Linked DNA regions of Homo sapiens. The protein of the gene in region 1 interacts with the protein of each later gene in a pairwise test. Each region holds a gene or a part of one and is shown on either strand. Other genes may lie near its edges. The genes, in order: DPH1 and TFCP2.

The links.
Region 2: the proteins of DPH1 (region 1) and TFCP2 interact in binary tests that used the Homo sapiens proteins (3 or more experiments, as listed by UniProt).

What each region holds. Positions count from the first base shown.
Region 1 is NC_000017.11:2,025,259-2,039,147, forward strand, and holds the start of DPH1 (2-(3-amino-3-carboxypropyl)histidine synthase subunit 1), read left to right. Parts: upstream 1-4,894; 5' UTR 4,895-4,896; coding exon of another isoform or gene 4,897-4,911; coding exon 4,912-4,972; intron 4,973-8,246; coding exon 8,247-8,399; intron 8,400-8,520; coding exon 8,521-8,584; intron 8,585-10,711; coding exon 10,712-10,833; intron 10,834-11,270; coding exon 11,271-11,428; intron 11,429-11,576; coding exon 11,577-11,698; exon of another isoform or gene 11,699-12,080; intron 12,081-13,889. UniProt on the Homo sapiens protein: Catalyzes the first step of diphthamide biosynthesis, a post-translational modification of histidine which occurs in elongation factor 2.
Region 2 is NC_000012.12:51,102,726-51,119,077, forward strand, and holds part of TFCP2 (alpha-globin transcription factor CP2), read right to left. Parts: intron 16,048-16,352; coding exon 15,896-16,047; intron 15,023-15,895; coding exon 14,946-15,022; intron 13,696-14,945; coding exon 13,590-13,695; intron 8,259-13,589; coding exon 8,152-8,258; intron 6,549-8,151; coding exon 6,396-6,548; intron 4,622-6,395; coding exon 4,511-4,621; intron 3,889-4,510; coding exon 3,800-3,888; intron 1,479-3,799; coding exon 1,430-1,478; intron 1,039-1,429; coding exon 945-1,038; intron 1-944.

The DNA.
Region 1 (13,889 bases):
GCAGCAAAAGGGCGCTCGCACGCACCGCCGAGCTCCGGGGAAAGCGCCCGGCGCGCGTTTGCAGGACCGAGCGATCGGCGGAGCGGGGCGCCTCCCTTCCTCCCCCCGGCTTCCCCCTCCTCTCCTCCTCCCTCCCTCCCTTGCTCTCTAGCTCCCTCCCTCTCGCTCCGCTCCCCGCCCCCGCTCACGGAGCGCCTCCCATACAAAATTTATGAAAGTGCTCTCAGCTCGCAGTGCCGAGCGCCGTCCTATTCCCAAGGCAGCAGCGCTCAGCCGCGCGGCGCCGCCTCCCAAGGTGTTTTCACTGCGCCCGCCCCCGGGGAAGATGCTCGGCCCGCGTCCGTCCAGGCACCTGCCCCCAGTCCCCAAGCCGGTCCTCGGACCACTCCACGCCCCTCCCCGGCCCCGCAGGCCTCCTGGAGCCCGAACCCGCAGCCCAGCCCCCGCCCGCTCGCCCTTCGCGGCTGGAGGTCATCGGGAGACGCGGCTGGGACGCGAGGACCGCCGCCCAGAGTACGGATCGCGAGTCCGCTCCCTGCCCCGTCTCCTCCCTGGCCAGCGCCCCTTCTCCCAGTCTCGACGGCTCTTCCCCGCACTGAACAGCTCCAGCGAACCCGGCTGCCCCGCACCCCGAGTCCCAGGACACTGTTCTTTCGTGGGGAGAGGAGGGGAGCAAGCATTCGGAAAGGGCCAGCTGCAAATTCCAGGGAGAAGGAAGGACCCGTGCGGGTTCGGGTGGGCCGTCTCCGCCTGGGTGGGGTGGCGGCGGGGGGTCTCTGATCTCCCTTGGTCCACACAGACCCCGCCGGGGGGTTCGCGGAAAATGGAGGAGGCGCCGCTTGGAAAGCGGGTCCCGCAGGGGCCTGTTGAGCTGAGGGAAGAGAAGGTTCGGGCCAGGCGAGATCCTGGGTGGAGGCGGCACCCCCTGCTGGCCTGGGATCAGAGGGATTCGGAGAGAAGAAAAAGCGGATGGACCAAGGCTGTCATTCAACACACATTCACCGAAGGCTCAGCATGTGTGGGGCACTACTGTTCCTGAAAATTCAGCAGACGAAAAAGACTTGTCTTTGCCCTGTCCTCAAGGAGTTTCCATTTTAATAGGGGCCAAATGAGGAAAGTCCAGAGAAGATGGGAAGATTGTGCTTCGAAGAAAAACAAGCAGAGTATTGTTCTGGAGCTGACACGGGGGTAGAGGTGGCAGTCAAGGAAAGCTGCTCTGAGCAGGTGACATCCAAGCAGAAATCCAACTGAATCCCTCCTTGTAGGAAAAGGTGACATGATAGGAAGGTCAAAAAGAAGGTCAGGGCCGGGCGCGGTGGCTCACGCCTGTAATCCTAGCACTTTGGGAGGCGGAGGCAGGCAGATCACGAGGTCAGGAGTTCGAGACCACCCTGGCCCGCATGGTGAAACCCGGTCTCTAATAAAAATACAAAAATTAGCCGGGCATGGTGGCAGGCGCCTGTAATCCCAGGTACTCGGGAGGCTGAGGCAGGAGACTCGCTTGAACCCGGGAGGCGGAGGTTGCAGTGAGCCGAGATCGCGCCACTGCACTCCAGCCTGGGTGACAGAGTGAGACTCTGTCTCAAAAAAAAAAAAAAAAAAAGGGCCAGGCTGGGCGCGGTGGCTCACACCTGTAATCCCAGCACTTTGGGAGGCTGAGCAGATCACTTGAGGTCAGGAGTTCGAGACCAGCCTGGCCAAGGTGAAACCCCGTCTCTATTAAAAATACAAAAATTAGCCGAGCGTGGTGGTGTGCGCCTGTAATCCCAGCTACTTGGGAGGCTACGGGAGAATCTCTTGAACACAGGAGATGGAGATTGCAATGAGCCGAGATCACACCACTGCACTCCTGCCTGGGTGACAGAGCGAGACTGTCTCAAAAAAACAAAACAAACAAAAAAAAAGAAGGCCAGTCTGACGTATTCACTCACACCTGCATTTGGTGGCACTGAAGCTTCAGATTTGAGCTAAGGCTCTGGGCTTGGACTTCCAGAAGCTTCAGGTGTCGTGGGAAAAGAAAGACCCGCAAACCATCTTAGAGTGTGACTGACAGAAGTCACAAAGACTGCGAAAGGGCTCTGCTAGCTCTGCCAGGGGCTACCAGATAATCAGGAAACAGTCACAGAAGAGGTGCCCTTGGAGTTAGGTCTTGAAGGCTGAGTTCACCACACTAAGAAGGGGGAAGGGCATTCCACGTAGATGCTTGAAGGTGAGAAGTAACCTTGTTCTGAAGATAGATAAGATTGGTCCTTCCTGAGGACCATGGGCTCACACCTATAATCTCACCACTTTGGAAGGCTGGGGTGGGAGGATTGCTTGAGGCCAGGAGTTTGAGACCAGCCTGGGCAACAGTGTGAGACTCCATCTCTATTTCAAAAAAATGTTTAAAGATAAAAAAAGATGGATGGCTGCTACTCTGGGCACACTGCCCATGGCCACAGGAGCAGTTAAACACGAACAAAAAAAGATTGGTCCCTCTTGGCGTAGAACAGAAGGTGAGGTATTCCTTCTCTTAGCCACCAGCTACAAGGCAGTGCTCACCCCACTGCCTGCCTTAGCCCTGACACTGGGAGCCTGAGAGGTCCTCTGTAAGTACACCGAGGCCCAGAGAGGATGAACAACTTGCTCAACGTCACATCACAGATCAGCGATAAAGTGTGGGCCTGACTCAGGGCCTGAATGTGGGATAATCCTCCTTCCACCTCTCCAAGCCGCCTCCCCATGACCCCCTAGCCCACAAACTCTAGCGTCTTAGGAAAAGTTGGCTGGGGCTGGGCGTGAGTGTGAGAAGCAGAGTTATTTCAGGCCTCAGGAGGGTTGGGTGCTGCCTTGGAGTCCAGCCAGGGAGTGGGGGCGAGTGAAGGCGGGTGTTGTGGTGTACTGTGGGGGTGCACTGTGCCCGCCTTCTTGTCAGGCAGTAATTACTCAGACTGCTGAGTAACTCAGGCAGGGAGACCCCCACAGACAGATGGAGGTGCCCTCAGCCCAAGCTGAATGGCAGCCCCCAATGTCCTGCACCACGGAGTCTTGGGGAAGCATTCTCACATCTGTTCTTCATGTCCAGTTCTCCTAGGCATCATCCGGCTTCCTAATGGGGGCCAGAGCAGCTCATTAGGCACAGCGGGTGCGGGGCAATGTTACTAGAGGGATGGGACTTTTGCCATCAAACAGGCCCCACCTCTGATGAGGGAAAGGTCCCAAGGGATATGGCGCCTGCTAGGGAGAAGCCATTGCTCAGTTGGAGCCAGTCCTTTCCCCTTGAAACTCCATGCTGCAGTCACAGCTAAGGCTGTCCACAGGCTGGGCAGCAGTGTCCTGAGAGAGGAGGGGCTGAGCTCCCAGAATTCAGATCTTGCACCCTGGGGATCCAGAGAAGCTGGGGGGAGATGGGAAGGTCTAGTCCGGACGCTTATCGAGTTGAGGGGAGTGTTCCTGGGACCCACATTGGTCACTTTTCTGTCTAGAGCTACCTGTCCTAAGAGTGCCGGTGGCCTGGGGGGCACAGCACTGACCCTTGGTGATGGTCCCTCAGCTGCTCACTCCCTGCCTGTCCAGCCATTCCTCCTCTCTGGGCAGCCTCCCAGGCAGGGCCTGTCTCTGGCTGCTTGTTTTTACTTCTCCCTGCACCTTAATTAGGGGTTTCCAAGCAGGGAGGGCCTCTGGGGGAGCCCGAGGACACAGAGCTGACTTAAAGGGCCAGCTGTGATCACAGCACCACCGCAGAGAGAGGAGGAGGATGCCAGGGGGCTGGGTAGACCGTCAGACCTGGAAGACCATTGTTCCACGGGACAGACTGCTGAGGGCCAGTCCTGCAGGTACTTTGCTCTTCCACAGGTCAAAGCCGTCTCACTGGCTGTCTTCTCTTTGGGGTCTCTGGGGCTCTGGCCAGTGATCAGGAGAAAGACCAGCCCTGAGGGGCAGGGCAAAGGTTGGCCAGGGTCCAGAAGGGTTAGACATCACAGTCCTCCACTGCCCACCTTCCCAGGAAAGCACCCTCAGGCTGTGGGCCTTCCCCAGAGGGGCAGTTTCTACAGGGTCTACGCAGTGGATTCTAAAGGTGATAAAGGCTGGGTGCAGTGGCTCGCGCCTGTAATCCCAGCACTTTGGGAGGCCAAAGTGGGAGGATTGCTTGAGTCCAGAGGTTCAAGACCAGCCTGAGCAAAATAGTGAAACCTTATCTCTACTAAAAAAAAAAAAAAAAAAAAAAAAAAAAATTAGCTGAACGTACGCCTGTGGTCCCGGGTACTCAGGGGGCTGAGGCAGGAAGATGAATTGAGCCCAGAAGGTTGAGACTGCTGTGAACCATGATCGCACCACTGCACTCCAGCCTGGGCGACAGACCAAGACCCTGTCTCAAAAAAAATAATTTAAAAAGCTGATAAGGGCGATCCACAAACCTGCACCAAGACTCTCAACTTGGAGCTGGGCTGGTGGTCCCTGAGTTCTGTCCTGCCGGACAGTAGAGTCCCCCTAGGTAGGGAACGTGGCCCCACACGGCGGCCGGGTGACCGACCACTGCTTACCAGGAGGGGAGACTGGCAGGGGGGGCTCAAGGAACATCTGGTGGGTGTCCCCTTCACAAGACTCGGCCTGCAGAGTTCGTGCAGGGAGTTCGCACATAGGAGAGCACCGGTCCGGGAGTGCCAGGCTCGTGCCCGGCCGGGGAGAGGAGTGGGAGACTAAGTCGCAGGGCAAGGGCAACTGCATAGTCGGGGACCTCTAGGGAATCCTGAGTCCCGGCATTCTGGGCTGGGGTGGAGCCCACTACAGCCCCGCCCCTATCTCCTCCTTTATGGCCCCGCCCAGCGGGTATCCCCCGCCCCCGCTGGCCGATCGGCGATCGATCGCAATGTCTGCGCTCTCCGCGTTCTTCCAGCGCTGTCTTTTTAGTACCACATGCGCAGGCAGGTGATGGCGGCGCTGGTCGTATCCGGGGCAGCGGAGCAGGGCGGCCGAGACGGCCCTGGCAGAGGTGGGTGCTGGAACGCTGCGCCCTCCAGACCTCGCATCTCGGGGCGGGGCCCCCAAGTTAGGGACAGGACCAACCCCCTTTAACGGCGGCGGCGCCTTTCTCCGCTAGATCCCGCTGTTAGTCGCCTTGGGCCGCTGTCACCAGCTCGGGGTCGCTGTCAGCCGGAGCCCAGGGGTACCAGTCTTTTGCAGCTTTAGGGCACGACCGAGAGCAGCCCTTAATCCTCCAATCGGAAACTACAGCCTTGTCTTGGCGGGTAGACGGATAAAATGGACTCGACGGGGAGGGAAAGGGCCAGGCCAGATGCAGCGGGCATTTTACGAGTGCGCCCTCAGGGAATGCTTTCAGGGAAGAGGCAAAAGGTTTCATTCGCCAGGCATTAACTGAGCGCCCACCGAATGCCAGGCCTGCGCTGGGTGCAGGTACTAGAATCAGAGATCTCAGTCTACTGGGGGAATGTTAATGTAAACATATCATAGCCACGTGATAAAGGAGGAGGTGCCTACTGGTCCCTGGGACACATTGAAGGGCTAATGTTAGCAGTTCCTTACACGCCAGCGACCACTAGGGACCTGTCAGAGGAGGATCTGTAATGGGCCTAGGAAGCCTAGGCTGATTGTCCAAGGCTTTTGAAACAACTGGCCAAAAACCATAGCAGTGGTAACGTTCAAATCTGATCTCAGGGCCCCAGCCTCCGCTGGACCATCCCCACCGCCGCCCACACAGTGGGTGAAGCCTCATGTCTGGGCGGGTCCCTCCTATCATAGTGTGGGGCCCTAGCAGAAGTTGTGGCACATAGCACAGTCTCAATACATATTCGTTGAATAAGTTAATTTCTTGCCTTTTCATATCCTCAGACTCTGTGGCTCCTGAAGAGATAACGGGGTTGAACTAAGCTTAATTGTCGGGGCAGGGCATAGTGGCTTACACCTTTAGTCTGAGCACTTTGGGAGGCTAAGGAGGATTGTGTGAGCCCAGGAATTCCACACCAGTCTGGGAAACATAGGGGGACCCTGTATGCACAAAAAAATAAAAAATAGCCGTGCGTGGCCGGGCACGGTGGCTTACACCTGTAATCCCAGCACTCTGGGAGGCTGAGGCGGGCGGATTACCTGAGGTCAGGAGTTTGAGACCAGCCTGGCCAACATGGTGGAAACCCTGTCTCTACTAAAAATACAAAAATTAGCCGCGTGTGGTAGCACACGCCTGTAATCCCAGCTACTCGGGAGGCTGAGGCAGGAGAATTGCTTGAGTCCGAGAGGCTGAGGTTGCAGTGAGCCGAGATTGCACCACTGCACTCCAGCCTGGCCAACAGACAGAGTGAGACTCTGTCTCAAAAAAAAAAAAAAAAAAAAAAATTAGCCCTGCGTCTTGGCACATGCCTGTGGTCCTAGCTACTGGGGAGGCTGAGGTGGGAGGATTATCGTTTGAGCCCAGGACGTCGAGGCCGCAGTGGACCATGATTGCACCCCTGCACTCCAGCCTGGGTGATGGAGTGAGACCCTGCCTTAAAAAATAATAAGATGAATTGTTTATTCAGCTTATTATTTTTTATCCTACTTAGGAGTAGGATGAGACCAGAGTAAGAGTTGCAGTTTGCTAAGGGCTACGGTTTCCCCTTTACTCCAGGAGTTGTAATTATGTGTATACCTGTCTTTTCCCCCACTAGACTGCTGGTCTCTAAGGGACAAGGTCACTTTTCTGTCCTTACTGGTACGTCCACCACCCTGACTCAAGTGTTCTTTCCATCCTTCCTGGTTTAAGAGTAAGGAGGAGCAATGGGACAGCTAAGTCAGTTAAATGTATGATGTTTATTTCCCTTTTAAATGAGGAGAGGTAAGCGTGAAAGAACGAACAGTGTGGCCACAGTCAGTGGGGTTCTGAGTCAGGAGGGCAGTCTTTTAAGTTAGTATTCATGTTTAACGGTTTGCTTATAGACCTCATATCTAGAAGCTCAAAACTTCAAGGTGTCCTCAGGAGGTGGGAGAGGGGGGACATTCTCCCAGGCTGGCTGGGCTGGCTAGACTGACTCTTAGGTTTTCCGCAGGGCTGTTCTCTATCAGGGAGCAGTATATGGACTCAGACTCATTCTTTGCCCCTTAGCCCCTGGTGTCACCTCTGTTCTCCTGAGGAAGAAGGTGAGCCATATTCTATTCATGGGCTCAAGTCTTCGATTCCCAGTGATTTCACAACATGGAAATTATACCGGTTACCTTCTGGCTTAATGAATTGTCTCTACCTTCAGGATGAATTCAGTGAGAACGAAAGCTGGGCCAACCCCCTTGGTGTCTGGATCTGGCCCTTAAACTTGGTGGAGTTAACAGCTTAGCTGGGTCTTGTTACCAAACTCAACTTGGGTCTTCCCATCCACACAAAGCAAAAGCCAAACACTGACATGGAGATTTGCAGGGAGAGAACAAGCATTTATTGTAAGGCACCAAGCAGGGAGACTGGGCAGCTAAAGCTTAAGACCTAAACTTCCTGATGGCTTACAAGCAAAGGGTTTTTATTTTATTTATTTATTTATTTTTGAGATGGTGTCTCGCTCTGTTGCCCAGGCTGGAGTGCAGCGGCGTGATCTCGGCTCACTGCAAGCTCCGCCTCCCGGGTTCACCCCATTCTCCTGCCTTAGCTGGGACTACAGGTGCCTGCCACCAGGCCCGGCTAATTTTTTGTATTTTTAGTAGAGAGTAGTATTTCCCCGTGTTAGCCAGGATGGTCTCGATCTCCTGATCTCGTGATCCGCCCGCCTCAGCCTCCCAAAGTGCTGGGATTACAGGCGTGAGCCACTGCGCCCGGCTGCAGAGGGTTTTTAAAGGCTGGGCTTCTGGGGATCTTTAAAGTGAATTAAGGGCTGGGGAATTTCTGGAACTTTCTTACCTATTTTCTGGCTTCAGTCTGTCTGAGGTCTTACATGACAGCAATTAGTTGGCATTTTTCACCTGGTGGGGGGGTGGGTGTCCTGGTTTCTGAAAAACAACTTAGGGATATATGTCAAGGTGTTATGTGTAGTTTCTATAGGGAACCAGGCATCTCGTGACTCTGACTTGGGTGACTGTTGTTTATTATCTTCTTGTTTAGCAAGTTATTTAATTCCCTAATTGCTGGTTGTAGGGCTAGCTAAGATGCCTGGGATTTTTCTTGAGATGACTCAAAATTTTTATTTCTATGCTTGAGCGGGGGCACCGGCAGGCCCTGAAAAGGGATCCCTATTCCATCTCAATCTGGCTTCAGCCAAAGACAGACACCAACTCAGGCCTTATATCCATTCTAGGTCGGGCCCCTCGGGGCCGCGTGGCCAATCAGATCCCCCCTGAGATCCTGAAGAACCCTCAGCTGCAGGCAGCAATCCGGGTCCTGCCTTCCAACTACAACTTTGAGATCCCCAAGACCATCTGGAGGATCCAACAAGCCCAGGCCAAGAAGGGTGAGCCTGTGATCATTGAGCTGGGGTTGGGGTGGAGAGGTTGCCTGGCCCAGATGGGACAGTGTCCCCCTTGCAGCCCCTTCCTAGCCCTCCACCTCTCATGTCTCTGCTCGTCTTGCAGTGGCCTTGCAAATGCCGGAAGGCCTCCTCCTCTTTGCCTGTACCATTGTGGATATCTTGGAAAGGTGAGGCTTGGGGCACTGGAGAGGAGGGTGAGCCAGGCTTCCCCCACCCCCTATGCTCATTACCCGGGTGGGTAAAGCCCTGGTGGCGGGCATTTTTTCCTTCTGAACCTCCACCTTCCCCCTTTCCCTCCCACAACCATACACACACTCAGGGAAAACCCAAAACAAATCTCCCAGCTTGCTGAGAGCCCTGCTTGTCCCTGCAAATCCCCCCTCCCCTAAACATTTGGGACAGAGAAAGAAATCAATCCCAGTGTCTTCAAAGCTAGACCCAGAGCAGGTGGTAGGACCTGGGGAGGACCCTAAGAATTCTCCAAGCTGCCCCTGAAATGCGCTGAGTGATCAGTGGGAGGTCTGCCGGTCGGGGGCGGTGGGGGGCACCTGTTCCTCGGGCACATTTGGGGAAGTAGGGCAAGGATGGGTTTGGAGTGGGAGGTGCCTGGGAGAAGGTATTCAGTTCCTCTACATCCTACCCCTGTCACTCTAAGTTTCTGCAATACAATGAGCCATCCTTGGTGGGGAGGGTGAGAGCTCAGCCATCTGGAACCAGCACAGGAACAGGGGAGGGGAACGAAGAAAGGGGAGGTCATCTCATGCTGGGAACCTCCCACTCCCCTGCTGCCCCATCGCCCTCCCCTGCTCCTCCCTCCCCCTCCCCTTCTCCCCCATCCCCCTCCCCTGCTCCCCCATCCCCTGCTGCCCCATCCCCCTCCCCTGCTGCCACCCTCCCTCCCCTGCTCCCCCAAACCTCTCTTCTCCCCCCTTCCCCTCCCCTGCTCCCCCTCTCTCCCCTCCCCTTCCCCCTCCCCTGCTCCCCCTCCCCTCCCCTGCTCCCCATCCCCCTCCCCAGTTTCCCCATCCCCTCCCCTGCTGCCCCATTCCCCTCCCCTACTCCCCCTTCCCCCTCCCCTGCTCCCCCCTCCCCTGCTGCCCCCTCCCCTCCTCCCCCACTCCCCTGCTGCCCCATCCCCCTCCCCTGCTGCTGCCCCATCCCCCTCCCCTGCTGCTGCCCTCCCTCCCCTGCTGCCCCATCTTGTTGCCACAGACTCACTTCCCTGCTCCCACCGTCTTGCCCCTTGGGGATGCTCTCTGGGGCTCAGGCCAATTTGCATACATTTTAATCTATAAAAAATTAAGTGCTGTGGCTGACTTAGACGCCTGGGCTGCATTCTAAGGAGGTGAATAATCTGCTTCTGGGCACAGCCTGATTTGGGGAAGGGGGTGGAGGAGGGGGTGACTAGCAGGAGCTCAACTCTTCCACTGCCACACCCCCAGGGGAAGGATGGGGGGACCCCAGTCACTGAGCCAGGCTCCACGCCCCAAGTGTGAGTCTCTTTCAAGGAAGAGGGGGTTCTCCTCCATTCCTAGGGTGAGTTCAGGGGTACAAGGTCTTCCCCACCCACCCCCTCCCCCAGTGATTCAGGCCTGGCAGCAGTTCCCACGGCAGTGTTCTGGCCAGAGCCTCCTCTTCCTGATGCAGGAGGCGTGTAGGTGGTGCCATGTGCTATGGGGGAGCTGTGCCTGGGTCCCCCCATCCTGGGCACCAAGGGCCCTGCCTGCGGTGGGGAGGTAGTGGGGGTCCGGACGAGAGGGCCCTGCCTGTGGTGGGGAGGTAGTGGGGGTCCGGGTGAGGGGGCCCTGCCTGTGGTGGGGAGGGGGTGGGGGCCCTGCCTGTGGTGGGGAGGGAGTGGGGGTCCCGGCAAGAGGGAGGCTGTGTGTATTCATACAGCCACGCCCATGCCCACCACAGCACTCAGCGCGGGAGTGAGGACCTTTGGGTGTGTGTGCGTGCTCACGGCTCTGGGTGGGTGAGTCAGGGCATGGGGCGTCTGTGTTTTGACCCCACGTGTGCCGGAGTGAGGGTTGGGGTCCCTCCTGCAGCCTGAGCCTGGGTAGAGGAATGAGGGTCCTCACGCAGCAACAGTTCCAGGAGCGGCTGCCAGGCTGGGGCAGGCGGCAGCTGTGCCCCTCCTAATCTTTGTTGGCAGAAGTGGCAGCTGCCATCCCGAGGAACTGGGAGAGGTAGGGAGAGAGGAGCTGGGCCCTGAGACACCCTCCCAGGGTTGGGTCTCTCCTACCTCAGTCCCTGTGTCCCTGTCCCACCGTTCCCCGCCCCTGTGCCCGCAGGTTCACGGAGGCCGAAGTGATGGTGATGGGTGACGTGACCTACGGGGCTTGCTGTGTGGATGACTTCACAGCGAGGGCCCTGGGAGCTGACTTCTTGGTGCACTACGGCCACAGTTGCCTGAGTATGGTGGGGCCAGGACACCTGGACGGTGGCGGGGCTGGCAGGGAGGCAGGCTGCACATTCATCTTCCCCATGGCAGTGCCTTCTTGTCCTGCTTGGAGACACAAGGTCCCTCCTGGTTTCTGGGGTGGCCTCTGCCTTCCCGCTCTGCAGGTAGATCTTTCCTTTGGATTTGGTTGCCTTGGCAACGGTGCTCTGTCCCAGATGCAGGTGTTTGAAAGGCTGTTGGTTGTAGAGCAGGCTGGGCCCCGGCCGGGTGACAGAGAAGTCTGATTGAGAAGGAGCTTCTAGGGGATCTGTGACCCCCCTCTTCTCCTACCCTGTCCTTTTACCCCCAGGCTGAAGCCACTGCGCCTGGCTGCTCAGAGACCTGAGCCTGGCCGGGCCCTCTGCTGCTCCTGCCTTCCCAAACAGCCCCTGAACTCCTCCCTCCCACAGTTCCCATGGACACCTCGGCCCAAGACTTCCGGGTGCTGTACGTCTTTGTGGACATCCGGATAGACACTACACACCTCCTGGACTCTCTCCGCCTCACCTTTCCCCCAGCCACTGCCCTTGCCCTGGTCAGCACCATTCAGTTTGTGTCGACCTTGCAGGTGGGTGGAACGAGGATCCTCGGCCTCCTGCAGGGTGGACAGCGGCCACTCTCCAGCTGTTGCGGGATCCCCAGGTGCTCCAGGCTGTTTCTCAGCCCTGGCTCTCCTGCCCCAGCCGCTGGCTTCACTTCCCTCGTCATTCCTACAGGCAGCCGCCCAGGAGCTGAAAGCCGAGTATCGTGTGAGTGTCCCACAGTGCAAGCCCCTGTCCCCTGGAGAGATCCTGGGCTGCACATCCCCCCGACTGTCCAAAGAGGTGGAGGCCGTTGTGTAAGTTAAAAATGGGGGCCAAGTAAGTCCTAGAGACATGCGTGTACCCTGGGAGGGAGCCTGAGGTTCATCATCCAGGAAAGAAACCAAATCTAATGCTCCTTACCTGTGAGCCCGAGGTCACACTGCAAGGTAGGGACCAAACAGGGAGCAGACCTCAGGTTTACTGTCGCTTTCTCCACTGCCCAGTCCATCATCCAGAAGGCTGTGCAGGGTGGGGGCAGGAATCAGAGGGCCTGATGGGGGTTGAGGGTGGGCTGGAAATGGTGGGAATATAATTGGAGAAGATGGATGGGCACGCCCAGGCTGCAGCCCCATTAATTTACCATCCGGACAGCTAACAAGCAGAAGCAGCGTGTCTCCTGCCGCCTAATTATTTTAGGTAATGGAAATGCTTAATGTTGTGTGAATGCAGCCAGCCTGAGAGCCGACGGCTCCCCCGACTGGGACTAGGGAAGGGAGTCCCGTTCCGTACTAATGGCAGGGAGGGAGGGTCGCTCCCTGACTCAGTCCCACCTCTGGGGCTTTGGAGGCTGTTTCCACAGGCCTGACACCCCTGTCCCTAGACAGGCCCACATCAGGGCCTTCCCCAGCCCAGATCTGGCAGCCCTGCTCCCCGAGCAGCACTGAGTGGCATTCCCCCTGTGCCCACGTCACTCAGTCTCTACCCTTGGGGTCTTCAAAGTGTATGTTGGAGGGAGGGACACCCTGAGTGTTAGCCATTCATCAGAATGAAGTGTGGTCTCCAAGAGGGAGAGAAGGAGCTGCCACAGGCAGGTTATCTTCCACGCTCTGTAATCTTCATGGGCTGGGAAGCTACTGTCAGGGACAGCATGTCTGGGGGCACACTTGGTACAGCCTGGGTTGAGCCTCAGACACACTGCTTCCTAGCTGTTTAATACTAGGCGAGTTTCTTAACATCCCTGAGCCTCAGTTGTTACCTTCTGTAAAACAGGTATACTATACGTATCTGGGAGGATTAGGAGATAGGACTGCGTGAACTAATTCACAGCAGGTACTTAGTCTATGCCTGGTACACAGAAGGCACAAGTCCAATAAACAGTAGCTGTTGGCCGGGCACAGTGGCTCACGCCTGTAATCTCAACACTTTGGGAGGCCAAGGCAGGAGAATTGCATATGTCCAGGAGTTTGAGACCAGCTTGGGGAATATAATGAAACCCTGTTCTCTCCAAAAAAAAAAAAAAAAAAAAAAAAAAGAATTAGCTGGGTACAGTGTCCATGCCTGTAGTCCCAGCTCCTCAGGAGGCTTAGGTGAGAGGATCGCTTGAGCCTGGGAGGTTGAGGCTGCAGCGAGCCATGACCGAGTCACTCAACCTGGGTGACAGAGTAAGACCCTGCCTCAAAAAAACAAAATGAAAATCCGGTAGCTTTTGTTATAACTCAGTAACTGGCCCCAAGAGCTAGTTTGGGCAGAAAGTAGCCATTGTATGCCCTGCAACCTCATGTACAGCATAGATCAGAGGTCCCCAACCCCTGGTCCCATGTCCTGTTAGGAAACCTGCCGCACAGTAGAAGGTGAGGGGTGGGCCAGCCAGCGTGACCACCTGAGCTCCGCCTCCTGTCAGATCCGCCGCGGCATTAGATTCTTGTAGGAGCTCAAACCCTATCGTGACCTGTACATGCGAGGGATCTAGGTTGCATGATCTTTATGAGATCCTAATGCCTGATGATCTGAGGTGAGACAGTTTCATCCTGAAACCATCCCCCAATCCCACCCGTGTCTTCCACAAAACCTGTTCCCAGTGCCAAAAATATTGGTTACTGCTGGCGTAGATGACTCCTTGAACACTACTGTCCACATCTGTATTGAGCTTGTGAAGGAGAATCTGTTCCCCAACTTCCAAATGAGGATCTCTAGAACCCCAGGTGGCCTCACCACGGCCGGCTGCTCCTTCACTCTTCCTCAGAAGCTTGGGGTGGGACGGTTCTTAGATTCTGCATTATGTAAATAGAGGGACCGTAGAGTCATCCAATTCAAACTCCTTATTTCACACGTGAGAAAACCAAGGCTCCAAGAGGTGAAGTGAAGGCTTGTCCCAGTTTACACAGAGGCACAGCACAGCCAGCTGTGAACTCAGTCCTCTGGACTTTTTTTTTTTTTTGAGACAGAGTCTTGTTCTGTCGCCCAGGCTGGAGTGCAGAGGTGCGATCTCGGCTCACTGCAGCCTCT
Region 2 (16,352 bases), on another chromosome or scaffold:
AAATAAATATATAAATAAATCCTGGATTCACCTCATGTGTCACACATGTTCCCTAACACCAATCCTCCCATGAACGTCTTACTGTCACTATCAGAACACTTATCTACAAAATCACAACTATTTATCATTTTTTCAGAGTTTTATTTTGATTCGATTAGTTGTGTTTTGTTTCGGTGCTTTTTTTTTTTTGGATACCAGATGATTAATGGGCTATTTGATCAGGAAGTATGCCTCATCCATTTGTGTATTCCTACCACATCAAAAAGTGCTAAATAGGCCAGATGCCGCAGCTCATACCTGTAATCCCAGCACTTTGGGAGGCCAAGAAGGGTGGATCACTTGAGGTCAGGAGTTCGAGACCAGCCTGGCCAATATGGTGAAACCCTGTCTCTACTAAAAATACATAAATTAGCTGGGTGTGATGGTAGGTGCCTATAATCCCAGCTAATCAGGAGGCTAAGGCAGGAGAATCACTTGAACCTGGGAGACGGAGGGTGCAGTGAGCCGAGATCATGCAACTGCACTCCAGCCTGGGTGACAGAGTGAGATTCCATCTCAAAGAAAAAGAAAAAAAAAGCTAAATAAAAGTGTATTGTGTAAATGAAATAAATTATAGTGATATCAAGGGGAAAATTTCAGACTACCTGCAAATGCCCCCTTGATAAAACTCTACGAAATATACATTTTAAAAAGCGTTGTATGAAATAAGCATTTTTAAATTAAATTGAATTTAAACTAAAAAGTGTTTGTTTTTAAGTATTTCACAGCACAGCTGCAGCTAGTGAGAAAGTCTTAAGGGTTCTATGAAATTCATTTCATCAGAAAAATGCAGTAAGATCTCTCATACACATATACACACACAACTCTCCCATGGATACCAGGAGGCCCTAGAATGCAAAGGAAAATTTCATGCTAGGGAAAACAAAAGAAAAAGAAAATTTAACCTGAGAAGTTTGTGAAAAGCCTTGTGAATGTAGAAAAACGATTTCGATGCAACCACTGCTGAGCTTCCTGAGGTGTGGTTGTTGGTAAGAGGTTCTGAAAGGGAGAGCACGTTTTTTAGATAACCAAATAGATTTGTCTGTTACCCCATTAGGTAACACATAGCCAAACACCCCACACAACCCCATACTCAGGCCTAGTTTGTGAAAGTTGTTTTCTCTTTCTCCAACCATGCAAGATGCTCAAGGAGTTCCATCCTTTTCTTCCCCACTAGACTATAAGCTGCTCAAATGGAAAGGTCCTGCATTACTTGTTTCATATCTTTAGTCCCTAGCACAGTATCTGGTTCATAGTCAAAATTCAATAAATGTTTGTTTAATGAATGAATGAATAATACTCCCTAAAAGTTGGGCATTTCTACTGAATTGGACAGTCATCAAAGTATTACCAGACATTGCAAGTAACTGACATTCAACTTTAGACTTACATCTGTGACTGGAGGGGGTGGCTCTGGCTGGTGGTTTGGTGAACCATTTCTAAAGAAACATTTAAAATGAAAGGATGAGTCCATGACACATGCTGGGGCTCATTATTTCATTCCTCAGCTTCACAATAAATCTCATGCTAGAGATTAAAAAAAAATCTGTGCTCTCTCATAACACATTCTTATTCTTTGACCCAATACTTTAATTTTCTATTAGTTTAACCTAAAGACTTTATGAGGAGGGGGAGAAACTATGTCATTAGCAATATTTTCTTATTATTGAGGAAACTGAAGAAAATATCAACATTTCAATAAATTGGGACTGATGAGATAAATTATGGCATAAAAATATTTAACCATAAATTTACTAAGATGAAAAATTATGAAAGAATAATTATCAAGAAAAAAATTTAAAAATAAAATGAAAAATATCAGGATAAAAAATTTTATCAATACATTACTACTGTAGGAAATACATAAATATGCACACATATACAAGAAAAATATTGGAAGAAAATTTATGCAATGCAATATCATCACACAGATTTAAAATAAAAAACAATTTTTTTTTTTTTTTTGAGACGGAGTCTCGCTCTCTTGCCCAGGCCGGAGTGCAGCGGCATGATCTCGGCTCACTGCAACCTCTGCCTCCCGGGTTCATGCCATTCTCCTGCCTCAGCCTACCGAGTAGCTGGGACTACAGGCGCCTGCCACTACACCCGGCTAATTTTTTTATATTTTTAGTAGAGACAGGGTTTCACTGTGTTAGCCAGGATGGTCTCGATCTCCTGACCTTGTGATCCGCCCGCCTCCGCCTCCCAAAGTGCTGGGATTACAGGCGTGAGCCACCGCGCCCGGCAAAAAAAATTATTTTTAAAGTAGCCCCAAAAATTAGTGCTGCCTAATTTATGATCCAAGGGTTATCTCCACACTCCAGTTTTTCTTTTTCTTTTTTTTTTTGAGACGGAGTTTCACTCGTTTGCCCAGGCTGGAGCGCAGTGGCATGATGTCAGCTCACTGCAACCTCTGCCCTCTGGTTTCAAGCGATTCTCCTGCCTCAGCCTCCCAAGTAGCTGGGATTACAGGCGCCCGCCGCCACACCTGGCTAATTTTTTTATTTTTAGTAGAGACGGGGTTTCACCATGTTGGCCAGGCTGGTCTCGAACTCCTGACATCGTAATCTGCCCACCTTGGCTTCCCAAAGTGCTGGGATTGCAGGTGTGAGCCACCGCGCCCAGCCTGTTTTTCTTTATACGTTCTTTGTCTATGAATTGTCCCTCTTCCCTAATGCCTACTTTTATGGAAGAAAAAGTTTAACTAGTATGAAGTACACGACAAAGAGAAGAGAAAAATTTTTAAACACAGCTCTTAAACCCTATATCATATTTGGAATTACCTATAAGTAGAATGTATCATCTATGTGGATGTTAAGATTTTTTTTTCTTTTAAAAAAAGATCTTTTTCCTTTTTTAGCCTTAGCTGCAAAATTCAAATTTGGTATTCGAACTTAGTAATTAACTTATCTTAGGGCCCTACTTATATGTATTCCCTCTACAACTAATACCTACTTTTATTCTTAATTGTTACGTTTTAAATATTTAAGCTACCTTAATTAAATCCTTTAAAAAGTAGGTCAGACATAGAGCCTAAATAAATCCAAAACCACAAACATTGCAACCAAACAATATACTCGCACATTTGGTAGCCTAACTATTTCAAGTTTCAATATGGCTATGTGAAATACATGTTAAATGCTTGGACTATAATACAGCTACTTTTTAAAATTGGAGTAGGCATCTGTACCAACTTTCAATTATCTCTTATGGTAAAAGATAATAAGGCAAGATTAAATGTATCCCATAAATAATTCCAAAACTTCATTTTAGCCATCATCTTCAAACTTATTTCCCCAATTATCAAAGATTCATAATAATTAGGTGTTAGAAGTATTCCTAACAAGTAACAAAACAAATTTTAGTGTTTGTACAATTGTTTCCAGTTCCCAAAGACCACTGTCTGGTGCAAGTATGATCAGGAAATGAAATAACCACAAGATGTGCAGTAATAGGGAGAGGCAAAAAGCCCAGATCATCAGTCCCTGAACCACTAAAAATTGACCATAAATGCTACTTTCTAGTGGGGGGAAAAAAGACGAGGAGGAGGGAGAGGGGAGAACACAAAGAGAAGAAAGGGCTATATAAAACTCTTTCGATCTCTTTTGAAGCTACTCCAAATCTCAGTTAATATATAAATCCATCAAAGAACGACCAAATAGATATACTTATTGATTTAAAAAAGATCTTGTTTATGAACAGGTAATGAAAGAATATATATTTTGGACAAATATAAGCCAATTTTATTTCCCAGACTTACCCTTCCCCAAGAGAAAAACTGCTATGGGAACTGTTGAAGCCAGGTGATGGGGAGTTATTGACATACGTGATCTCGGGCCATGGAGAACACTAAAAACAAAGGATAAGTTAGATAATGAACGAGCACATATGACCCCAGGATTTGACTAAAACATTGTTACTTGAATAGCACATCTTGATTAGTAAATCTTAATTCCTCAGAGACTCCCATAAGCAATAGAGAACACTGCTTCTCTTTCCGCCATCTTGGAGCCTGTGGGGAGGCCTGCTGAGAATAGGACTTCTAAAAAGAAATAAGTCTAGAAAACTACGGTCCCAGGCCATTTTTGTTGGTTATAAGTGGGTTCCAGAACCAAAGGCAGCACACAGCTCTTCCTAAAATTGAAGGTGGTTTATGCCCAAGATGAAACTGAATTCTATTTGGGCAAGAGATGTGCTTATGTATACAAAGCAAAGAACACCACAATAGCTCCTGCAGCAAACCAAACCAAACCAGAGTAATTTGGGGAAAGATAACTTGGACACAGAGACAGTGGCATGGTTCGTGCCAAATTCTAAAGCAATCTTCCTGTTAAGGCCGCTGGACACAGAATCCATGTGATACTGTGTCCCTCAAGGCTTAGGAGAAGTAAATTCTGACCAGTTTGGAAGTGATGAATTTTTAAGATTAAAAATTATGAACTGAAATTGTCACCAAAAGAAATCTTTTTACCTCTGTGAGTATGGTTGTCTCATAGGAAGGCTGATATTTCTCCTTTTCATGAGGTGTTCGTTTCTCCATTTTTTCCCTATCCGTTTTTTGCTTTCTGTCTGCACCTTTGGGCTGAAATGAGAAATATTTTGTTTTAAATTCAGGTACTCACCTTTTAACCCAAAATATTGCTTCCAAAAACTTAAATATTCATGTATGAAACAAAATTGTATGTGCAGTGATGTAAAGGCAAGACACATCACTTTAAGTTTGAAAATAGGAAATTTAAATGTTTATATTCGATGGAGTTGAAAAGAATCAGATCTATAGCTACTGACATGGAAAGATCTCTAAAGCACATAGTTCACTGAAAAAAATCAAGTCTCAAAACATTTCTTTCTTTTTTTTTTGAGACGGAGTCTCATCCTGTCACACAAGCTGGAATGCGGTGGCGAGATCTTGGCTCACTGCAACCTCCGCCTCCAGGGTTCAAATTATTCTCCTGCCTCAGCCTCCCCAGTAGCTGGGACTACAGGCGTCCGCCACCACACCCAGCTAATTTTTTATCTTTAGTAGAGACGGGGTTTCACCATTTTGGTCAGGCTGGTCTTAAACTCCTGACCTTGTGATCCGCCCACCTCGGCCTCCCAAAGTGCTGGGATTACAGGCATGAGCCACCGTGCCTAGCCTCAAAACATTTCAAATAGTATAATCCCATTTATGTGTCAAAGAAAATATGTATATAGCTATGTATGTGTGTGTATAAAAGCATAGGAAGGAACTAGAAGAGCTGGGCGCAGTGGCTCATGCCTGTAATCCCAGCACTTTGGGAGGCCGAGGCAGGCGGATTGCCTGAGGTCAGGAGTTCGAGACCAGCCTGGCCAACATGGCGAAACCCTGTCTCTACTAAAAATACAAAAAATTAGCTGGGCATGGTGGTGTGTGCCTGTAGTCCTAGGTGCTGGGGAGGCTGAGGCGTGAGAACAGCTTGAACCCAGGAGACGGAGGTTGCAGTGAGCTGGCACTGCACCACTGCATTCCAGCCTGGGTGACAGAGTGAAACTCCGACTCAAAAAAAAAAAAGAAGAGGGAAGTAGAAGAACACATACGAAATTATGAAATTATGACAGTGGTTTCCTCTGGGAAGAGGTTGTGGAGGGGGTCAGTGTAAGAGTAGTAAAGGGAGAATTTCAGTGTTGCTATGAATACCTCTGTATTATTCAATCTCTTACAATGAGAACATATTTATTCATGTGATAAAAATAAACAGGACCCTGGCTGGGGCACAGTGGCTTACACCTGTAATCCCAGTACTTTGGGAGGCCAAGGAGGGCAGATAACTTAAGCCCGGGAGTTCAAGGCCAGCCTGGGCAACATGGCAAGACCCCCTCTCTATAAAAAATACAAAAATTAGCCCGGTGTGGTGGCACATGCCTGTAGTCCCACTTACTGGGGAAGCTGAGGCAGGAAGATCAATTGAGCCCAGGAGGTTAAACTATGATTGCGTCACTGCACTCCAGCCTGGGTGACAAAATGAAACCCAGTCTCAAAAATAAATAAATAAATAAATAAGACCAAATAAGAAAAGATCAAGTATGAAAATAACCATAACTAGTCAATTTTTGTGAGCTTTACAAGAGCTTGTAACTTCAATAGGCTTTAAGAGCTTTCAATGAGAATCCATGTTCTTGCCTCTAGCCCTCTTTTCCAAGTTCCTATTATCCTACGACCATGTAAATTTCTTTACCAGGCATCTTGGTAATTATTTCAATGACTCTAGCTTAGACTTTTTGCGTGTGTGTGAGTTTTCAAAAAAAGACAAGTTGATTTTCTGACTTGGTAACTAATGTTAAAATAGAATGATAAGGTAAAAGAATCCAAGGGCCAGCACATTGCCCAGGAATACCTTGAAAACTTTGATCTGGCAGCTGGCCGAGTGTAAGTGCTCAGTATATTCCCCGTTTTCATTCTCCTTGAAGGTATCTATTTGTACTCGGAATGGCACCCCCTTTTCTCCACCATGTTTCCTCATAGTGAACTCTGTGCTAATACAGTGCACCTGAAAAGAATACAACAGCAAGGCTTCAGTACCGCTAGCTAGCCAAACCAGTTGGCAGTATTTTTTTAGCAACTATTAACAGCAAAACCTTTACCAGGCATTATGAATACCTACAAAAAACACTTTTCCTCTTTTTGATCTTGAAGAACTTACAATCTGATAGAGGAAATAGAAAAATGCTTTACAAATGCAAACAAAATAAAAGTACAGATCTAATGCTAACAAAAGCTACTGTGAGGAACTAAATTCATTAACTGCTTCAAAGAACACAGAGCTAGCAAAAGAGAAATGATTTATGTTAGTTAAAGTTTCCTCAATTTTAAGGAAGATTGTAGAAAGAGGAGTCACTACCCAGTCTGGGAACATAGTAAATATGAAAGTTCACAGCAATAGTGGAGAAAAAGGTTTGCTTGGCTACTGCATAAAGTCTAAGATTGGTGAATTTTTTTTTTTTTTTTTTTTGAGACTAAGTTTTGCTCTTGTCACCCAGGCTGGAATGCAATGGCACAATCTCGGCTCACCGCAACCTCCACCTCCCCGGTTCAAGCAATTCTCCTGCCTCAGCCTCCCAAATAGCTGGGATTACAGGCACACACCACCACGCCCTGCTAATTTTTGCATTTTTAGTAGAGACAGGTTTTCGCCATGTTGGCCAGGCTGGTCTCGAACTCCTGACCTCAGGTGATCTGCCTGCCTCGGCCTCCCAAAGTGCTGGGATTACAGGTGTGAGCCACGGCACCCAGCCTGGTGAATCTTAATAGAAGAACCTTGTCTGACTGACTACTCCACAAGATTATAGCTGAAAGTCTTAAAATCATATATATAAAGTGTTTACTTAACATAGTGACTATTTCATGTGAAGTATTAATAAACTAGTGGTTACTATAATTACTACAAATAAGGATTTTCAAGGACTCTACCCAAAGAACATAATCAGATACGCAAATCAAATTTTAAGTATAAATATGTTCAAAATAACATCACAGATAATAGTAAAAAATCAGGCCAATCAAGGCCGGGCATGGTGGCTCACACCTATAATCCCAGCACTTTGGGAGGCCAAGGTGGGTGGGTCACCTGAGGTCAGGAGTTCAAGACCAGCCTGGCTAGCATGGCGAAATCCCACCTCTACCAAAAATACAAAAATTAGCCAGGCATGGTGACATGCGCCTCTAGTCCCAGCTACTGGTGAGGCTGAGGCAAGAGAATCGCTTGAACTGGGAGGCAGAGGTTGTAGTGAGCCGAGATTGCACCACTCCACTCCAGATTGGGAGACAAAGCCTAGACACTGTCCCCCCCCAAAAAAATTATGCCAATCTAACTGCCAAATAATTGTTATGTAAATTATGGTACAACCAAGAAATGAAATATTATGCAGCCATTACCAAGCAATTTTGGGAGACACAAATAAATAAACTGGGGTATTAGAAGAGCAATTCAGAAACTCCTCAATGCTCTCAGGCACAGGTTAAAGAGCCTGGGCTTGACAGTCAGGCTAGAACCCTGTAAAGATTTCAAAGTTAACATGTTTTATCCTTTAAGAAATAAACTGATAGTAAGAGAGATACTCTTCAAAACTGGAACCCTATCTGCAACGCCTTACCTGAATAAACACAGATGTCCTCTTTGCAGGGTCCCACAGGAACTCCACTGTATTTAGTTGAGTTGGATTAGCCCTAGGATCGATTATACCCACAGACATCGGGATATCTGAGAAACAAAATGGTAATCATTGAACAATTTTGAGGGCCACTCAGTTTTAAATAAGAAAGCATTGATTCTTATATTACTCAATGTAGCTACCAAGATTTTTGTATATCACATCCTAAATTTCTTTGTTTTTTTTTTTTGTCGTTGTTGTTGTTTTTTATGGAGTCTTGTTCTGTTGCCCAAGCTGGAGTGCAGTGGTAACAGGCCTGGAGTGCAGTGGCACCATCTCAGCTCACTGCAACCTCTGCCTCCTGGGTTCAAACGATCCTCCTGCCTCTGCCTCCTGAGTAGCTGGGATTACAGGCCCGTGCCACCACGCCCGGCTAATTTTTTTGTATCTTTAGTAGAGATGGGGTTTCACCATGTTGGCCATGCTGCTCTCAAACTCCTGACCTCAGGTTATCCACCCACCTTGGCCTCCTAAAGTGCTGGGATTACAGGCTTGAGCCACTGTGCCCAGCCCACACCTTAAATTTCTTTTTTGTCAATGAAAATATTTGATTAGAGTAAAATTGACTTAAGTACTTTGCTTGAGCACCTTTTTTCCTCTTTAAAAAGTTTTTAAAATACGGCAATTAAAAAAATTATTTGGCCAGGCACGGTGGCTCACACCTGTAATCCCAGCACTTTGGGAGCCCAAGGCAGGCGGATCATGATGTCAGGAGTTCGAGACCAGCCTGACCAACATGACGTAACCTCATCTCTACTAAAAATACAAAAATTAGCCGGCCGTGGTGGCCCACACCTGTAATCCCAGCTACTCAGGAGGCTGAAGCAGGAGAATTGCTTGAACCTGGGAGGTGGAGGTTGCAGTGAGCCGGAGATCGAGCCACTGCACTCCAGCCTGGGTGACAAAGCAAGACTTCATCTCAAAAAAAAAAATTATTTTTAGGCCAGGCGTGGTGGCTTACACCTGTTATCCCAGCACTTTGGGAGGCCAAGGTGAGCGGATCACCTGAAGTCAAGAGTTCAAGACCAGCCTGGCCAACATGGCGAAACCCCGTCTCTACTAAAAAATACAAAAATTAGCCAGGCATGGTAGTGGGCATCTGTAATCCCAGCTACCTGAGAGGCTGAGGCAGAGAGAACTGCTTGAACCAGGGAGGCGGAGGTTGCAGTGAGCCAGTATTGCGCCACTGTGCTCCAGCCTGGGTGACAGAGCAAGACTGTCTCGAAAAACAAAAAAATCATTTTTAAATTGAGAAATAATAATTGTACATATTCATGGGCTATATAGTGATGTTTCAATACATATAATGCATAGTGATCAGATCAGGGTAATCAGCATATTCATTGTCTCAAACATCTGTCATTTCTTTGTGTTGGGAATGTTTAGTATCCTCCTTCTAGCTTAAAATATGGCAATTTAAAGGCAGTTTCCTTTTAATTTGTTAAAATCCTATTTAAGGTGGATTAAGTCTACACTATCATGAAAACTGTAATTTATAATCTATTTCAACTACAGTTTGAAAATTAGTTTCATTGCCAAAAGCACATTAAGAGTATTGCTATTGAAGGGGTGCAGCAGAGTGTCTATATGAAGGTAGAAAGCATTATATCATGAATGAAAGTGGGAAAATTTTAACATAAAGATTGATGCAGGCCAAGCGTGGTGGCTCACGCCTGCAATCCCAGTACTTTGGGAGGCCAAGGCGGGTGGATCATTTGAGGTCAGGAGTTCGAGACCAGCCTGGCCAACATGGTGAAAACTTGTCTCTACTACAAATATAAAAATTAGCTGGGCGTGGTTGTGGATGCCTATAATCCCAGCTACTCAGGAGTCTGAGGCATGAGAATGGCTTGAACCCGGGAGACAGAGGTTGCAGTGAGCCGAGATCATGCCATTGTACTCCAGCCTGGATGACAGAGCAAGACTCTGTCTCAAAAAAAAAAAAAAAAAGATGGTTGATGCTGACTTACCAAGTCATCAAATAATCCTATAACAGAGTGACAAATCTTTACTTAAAAGGGAAGCAAGAATTAATGGGTTTGAGTAGAACTTTTCTTTCCATTCCACACAGCAGATATTCAAATAGCATTCCCTGATTTCTCCTATTAATGATCAAACTGGGGAGTTAAGGCCAGGTAATATGTATTATCAGAACTGTGGTATTAACTATACTACTGTTTTGGTATCAATGATTCAAACAATAGAGCATCAAGTGGGTCCCACTCCACAATATTAGTTGTGTTAGATTCATCTTAAGGTCAACTTATCATACAGATATCAGGATCACTGCATGAGAACCAATGTTTTCTCAGGTAAAATTAGTAGCAGTTAAATTTTTCTTAACAACTATGTTTACCAAAAGGAAATTTTAACCAATTAGAAATCAGAGAGGCAGACACCATGAAAAGTGACTGCATGTGTATTTGTGAAGATCTTTCCTTTATACCCTATGACTTAGGAAAAACAAATTCTACTCTGTGTAGCAACGTGGGAAGACACAACTTAACTGCAAACCAAGTGACATAGCTTCTAATACCAGAACTCCCACTTTATAGTGCCTGGTTCTCAGGCACTAGTAAAATGAAGGAACTTTCAGCATGCTGGGGAAAAAAGTCTGCCCCTCTTTACAAACGCAAAACAAAATATCAGATCCTGAGCAGCCAAAACAATCGTGAAATAGAACAAAGTTGGAGTTCTCATGCTTCACGACTTCCAAACTGACTATAAAGCTACACTTAGCAAAATAGTGAGGTATAGGCATAAAGACAGACATTTAAACAAATGGAATAGAATAGACAGCCTACAAATAAGTATTCAAATATATGGTCAAATGAGTTTTGACAAGGGTGCAAGACCATTCAGTGGGGGAAAGAACAGTCTTTTCAACAAACGGTGTGGAGAAAACTGGGTATCCACATGCAAAAGAATGAAGTTGGGCCCTTCTTTCTGTATATGGTTTACCATACAACCTTTTTTGTATATGGTTGTACCATATACAAACACGAACTCAAAATGGACCTGTGACCTGAATATAAGACCTAAAACTATAAAACTCTTAGGAGAAAACATATGGGAAAAGCTTCTTGGCACTGAATTTGGCAATGATTTCTTGGATGTGGCACCAAAAGCACAGGGAATTAAAAAAAATTAGATAAATTGGACCACCTCAATGTAAAACTTTAGTGCATCAAAGGATAGTATCAACACAGTAAAAAAGCAACCCACACAATAACAGAAAAGATTTGCATGTGATATATCTGCTATGGGGTTAATATCCAGAATATTTTAAAAATTCTTTCAACTCAATAACAAAAAAAACAAAACAATCCAATTCGATAGTGGGCAAAAGACTTGAACAGACATTTCTCCAAAGAAAATATATAAATGATGGGCCGGGAGCCTTGGCTCACACCTGTAATCCCAGCGCTTTGGGAGGCCAAGGCGGGTGGATCACCTGAGGTCAGGAGTTCAAGACCAGCCTGGCCAACATGGCAAAACCCTGTCTCTACTAAAACACAAAAATTAGCTGGGTGTGGTGGCGGGCACCTGTAATCCCAGCTACTCAGGAGGCTGAGGCAGGAAAATCGCTTGAACCCGGGAGGTGGAAGTTGTAGTAAGCCAAGATCATGCCACTGCACTCCAGCCTGGGCGACAGAGGGAGACTCCATCTCAAAAATAAATAAATAAATAAATAAAAATAAAGAAAGAAAGAAAATATATAAATGGCCAATAAGCACATGCAAAGATGCTTGACATCACTTATCACCAGGGAAATGCAAATCAAAACCACAATGAGATACTACTTCACAACCATCAGGATGGATATTATCAAAAAATAGAAAGCAACAGGCCAGGTGTGGTGGCTCACGCTTGTAATCCCAGCACTTTGGGAGGCCGAGGCGGGCAGATCAAGAGGTCAAGAGATTGAGACTACCCTGGCCAACATGGTGAAACCCCGTCTCTACCAAAAATACAAAAATTAGCTAGGTGTGGTGGTGCATGCCTGTAATCCCAGCTACTTGGAGGCTGAGGCAGGAGAATCACTTGAACCTGGGAGGGAGAGGTTGTGGTGAGTTGATATCGCGCCATTGCACTCCAGCCTGGGCAACAAGAGCGAAACTCCATCTCAGGAAAAAAAAAAAAAGGAAAGCAACAAGTGTTGACAAGGATTGGAGAAATTGGAACCTTTTTTTTTTTTTTTTTTTTGAGAGAGTCTCGCTCTGTCACCCAGGCTGGAGTGCAGTGGCGTGGTCTTGGCTCACTGCAAGCTCCGCCTCCCGGGTTCACACCATTCTCCTGCCTCAGCCTCCTGGGTAGCTGGGACTACAGGCGCCCGCCACCACGCCCAGCTAATTTCTTTGTATTTTGAGTGGAGACGGGGTTTCACCATGTTAGCCAGGATGGTCTCGATTTCCTGACCTCATGTTCTGCCCACCTTGGCCTCCCAAAGTTTTGGGATTACAGGCGTGAGCCATCGCGCCCGGCCGAAATTGGAACCTTTGAGTACCGCTGGTAGAAATGTAAAATGTGTAGTCACTGTGGAAAACAATATAGTGGTTTCTAAAAAAAATCTAAGATAGAGTTACCATATGACCCAGCAATTCCATTTCTGGATATGTATCCAAAAGAATTAAAAGCAGAGACTCAAACACATATTTGTACATCCATGTTCATAGCAGCATTATTCACAATAGCCAGGAAATGGAATCAAATTAAGTGCCTATCATGGGATGAATGGATAAACAAAGTGTGATATATACACACAATGGAGTATTATTCAGCCTTGCATGGGAAGGAAATGCTAATGTATGCTATACCATGAACCTTGAAAACATTATGCTAAGTGAAAAATGCCAGTCACAAAAGGACAAATACTGTATGATTTCATTTATGCAGTACTTAGTAGTCCAATTCATAGAGACAGAAAGGAGAATAGTGGTTACCAGGGGCTGTGAAGAAGGGAGAATGGGGAGTTGTTGTTTAACAGGTACAGACTTCTGGTTTTGCAGATGAGAAAAGTTCTGGAGATGGATGATAGTGATGGTTACACAATAATGTGAATGTACCTAATGTTACTGAACTATCCACTTAAAAATGGTTAAAATGATAACTTTTATGTAATGTATATTTTACCACAACTTAAAAAACAACAAAATCAACCTATAGTTGCTATGGAACTAAAGTGTTTACACTTCCAACTTCAATTTTGATATCATTTTAACTTGTATTACTTAAAATTTTTTATGCTTAGTAAATAATTTCAAGGTTTATACTAATTGAGCCTCTCAAGCATATGAATCAAGGTAAATGTCAAATAAAGAAAACCAACTCTGGGTCCATAGCTAAAGGCATTTCCTAGGCAATAGATTCTCTTAACTCACCTATGTCAAGAATTCTGTCTCCAGGTCGGTTCCACCTCCAGCCCTCTAGCTGCTGATGCTCAGTGTACTGAAGCCTTCTGTCATGGAACACCACACGGAATATACTCTAAAAGGATACAACAAAATCAGATGATAACAAGACCTCTTGAAAATCAGTGCTGACAAAGAAAAACTAGCAGGATTCACTGCCAGTTTGTTTCTAAACGCAATCTAAAATTATTTTTCTTAAGATCTGTTTCACTCTAAAACCCATACCATACTAAGTGCTATTTCAGGATAAAATTTTATAATTTCTCAGATATAATCTTTTTTTTTTTTTTTGAAACAGATTTTGCTCTTGTTGCCCAGGTTGGAGTGCAATGGTGTGATCTCGGCTCACCGCAACCTCCACCTCCCGGGTTCAAGGAATTCTCCTGCCTCAGCCTCCTGAGTAGCTGGGATTACAGGCATGTGCTACCACGCCTGACTAATTTTGTATTTTTTGTAGAGACAGGGTTTCTCCATGTTGGTCAGGCTGGTCTCAAACTCCCAACCTCAGGCGACCCGCCCGCCTCAGCCTCTCAAAGTGCTGGGACTATAGGCGTGAGCCACCGGGTCCAGCCAATTTCTCAGATAGAATCTTTATAGTTAACTGGTACCATATTTAAAACTTGGCTTAAACTTCAGTCCGATGGTAACTAGGAATAAAGTACTCCTGTCTGAAGCGTTTCTGCACACCTCTTCTGTTATACCACGGCCTATCTGGCTTAGCTCTTCAGATGTATATGAAAAACTCACCAACTCCCCCGCTTGCTAACCCACCATACAACCTGTAAACACTGAGGGTAGGTAGAGCCTGTTTCCATCAACTTTCCTTTTGTTACTCTTACTTTGTAGAAGTGCCTATTAATTCCTCCCACCACCTTTTGACAAAACTCCTCTGTTTCAACTGTGCTGTGAATTATCAAAATCCTAACTGTTAATCTAGACTAAGAGAACTGCTCTTCATCAAAGTAGCTTCTGTTTTCCTTGCTATAAGACTAAGTATCAAAAAAGACACTGAGGCTTCTCTAAAGATCTCAAGGAGGTTACTTTACTCCACCCAAAAGAACTTCACTGAGCCAGGGGTGATTACCCTGGACAGGGAGTGGTAAGCGTTCTATTTCTGCAGCTCTGAAAAATTCATGTGAATACTGGGGCTTACTCTGACCCCAAAGAAATAACACATCAGCTTACTACTCTGCCAACAAATTACTGCAGGCAAGAGATACCATTAAGCCATTGGAAGCAAAAGAACATTAACAACAACAACAAAATTTAAAATCCCAAAAGGATTAGTAAAAAATATTGTACAGAAGAATGATTTATTCGTTTTACCTTCACCAATTTGCCATTAATTTCTGGAAGTTCTCCAAGTTTCCTATTGTCTAGCATTCGAATTTCATAAGACTGTCCTAGAAGAAAAAGTAATTACATATTATATTCACCACAAATTAACTTTGCTAGATTCGGAAAGAATAAAATTCAGTTGGTTGAATATACAACAGTATAATAATATTATTAGTATTAGTAACAACAATCAGAAGCCTTTACAAGATGCTCAGCACTGTGCTAAGTATTGTCACATTATCTCATTTAACTGATATACTTTTCTAAGGTATTATCAATCCCATTTTACAGACAAAGAAATTGAAACTTAAAAGAGTTTTAGCAACTTGTCCAAGGCCACACAATTGGTAAATAATAGAGCCAGGTAGAGTAATACTTCTCAGACAGTAACCAATGGGAGTGTCTAGGGAATATGATTAGGAAGAGGAAGCTGGACACTAAAAATGGACAGCTAAGCAAAAGAAGCTAGTAATAGATATCAAGTATGACATTAGAACTCAAATCTCTGAAGTAGGACTTCTAGTTTGATAGGCCACACTAGAAAGATCTAAGTTTTTACATATAAGTGTACCTAATAAAACATCATAAATGGCCGGGCACGGTGGCTCACGCCTGTAATCCCAGCACTTTGGGAGGCCAAGGCAGGCGGATCATGAGGTCAGGAGATCGAGACCATCCTGGCTAACACGATGAAACCCTATCTCTACTAAAAATACAAAAAAATTAGCCGGGTGTGGTGGCGGGTGCCTGTGGTCCCAGCTACTCAGGAGGCTGAGGCAGGAGAATGGTGTGAACCCGGGAGGCAGAGCTTGCAGTGAGCCAAGATGGCGCCACTACACTCCAGCCTGGGTGACGCCGTCTCAAAACAAACAAACAAACAAAAAAATCATAAATACAGTAGGTCTGCAATAGTACTAATGAATGAGGAAGCATCTAACCTTGATTGAGATACGTTAGGGTTTCATCATGGAGTTTCACTGCTGGAGAGGTAGCAGCACAAAGCACATATTGAAAAGGCAGGATTTTATTCTCATTATCAGGAGGCAAACTCGACTCTTCTTGCTTAAAAATGGGCAATGCAAGGACATCACTAAAATAAAACAAATGACTCACATTAATACCTGGCAATGGTGCAAACGCAGGTTTATTGCTGAATGATTTAACTGCAATGCTTTGGAAAGCCATAAACATTACTCACCTTGGTGGAGTTTCATCCCAAGAATTCCATTTAGATTACCTGCTGTGATATCCCCCTGACCACAACAGTGTGGGTGATGACAGATATTCACTGCTAAAACCACTAAGTGTTAAAGAGAATGTTTCTAGGAATCATAGACAGGGGTTCCTAAAAGGACTGTGGAAATTATAAACAGAGTTCTAAAATGTATAAATCTA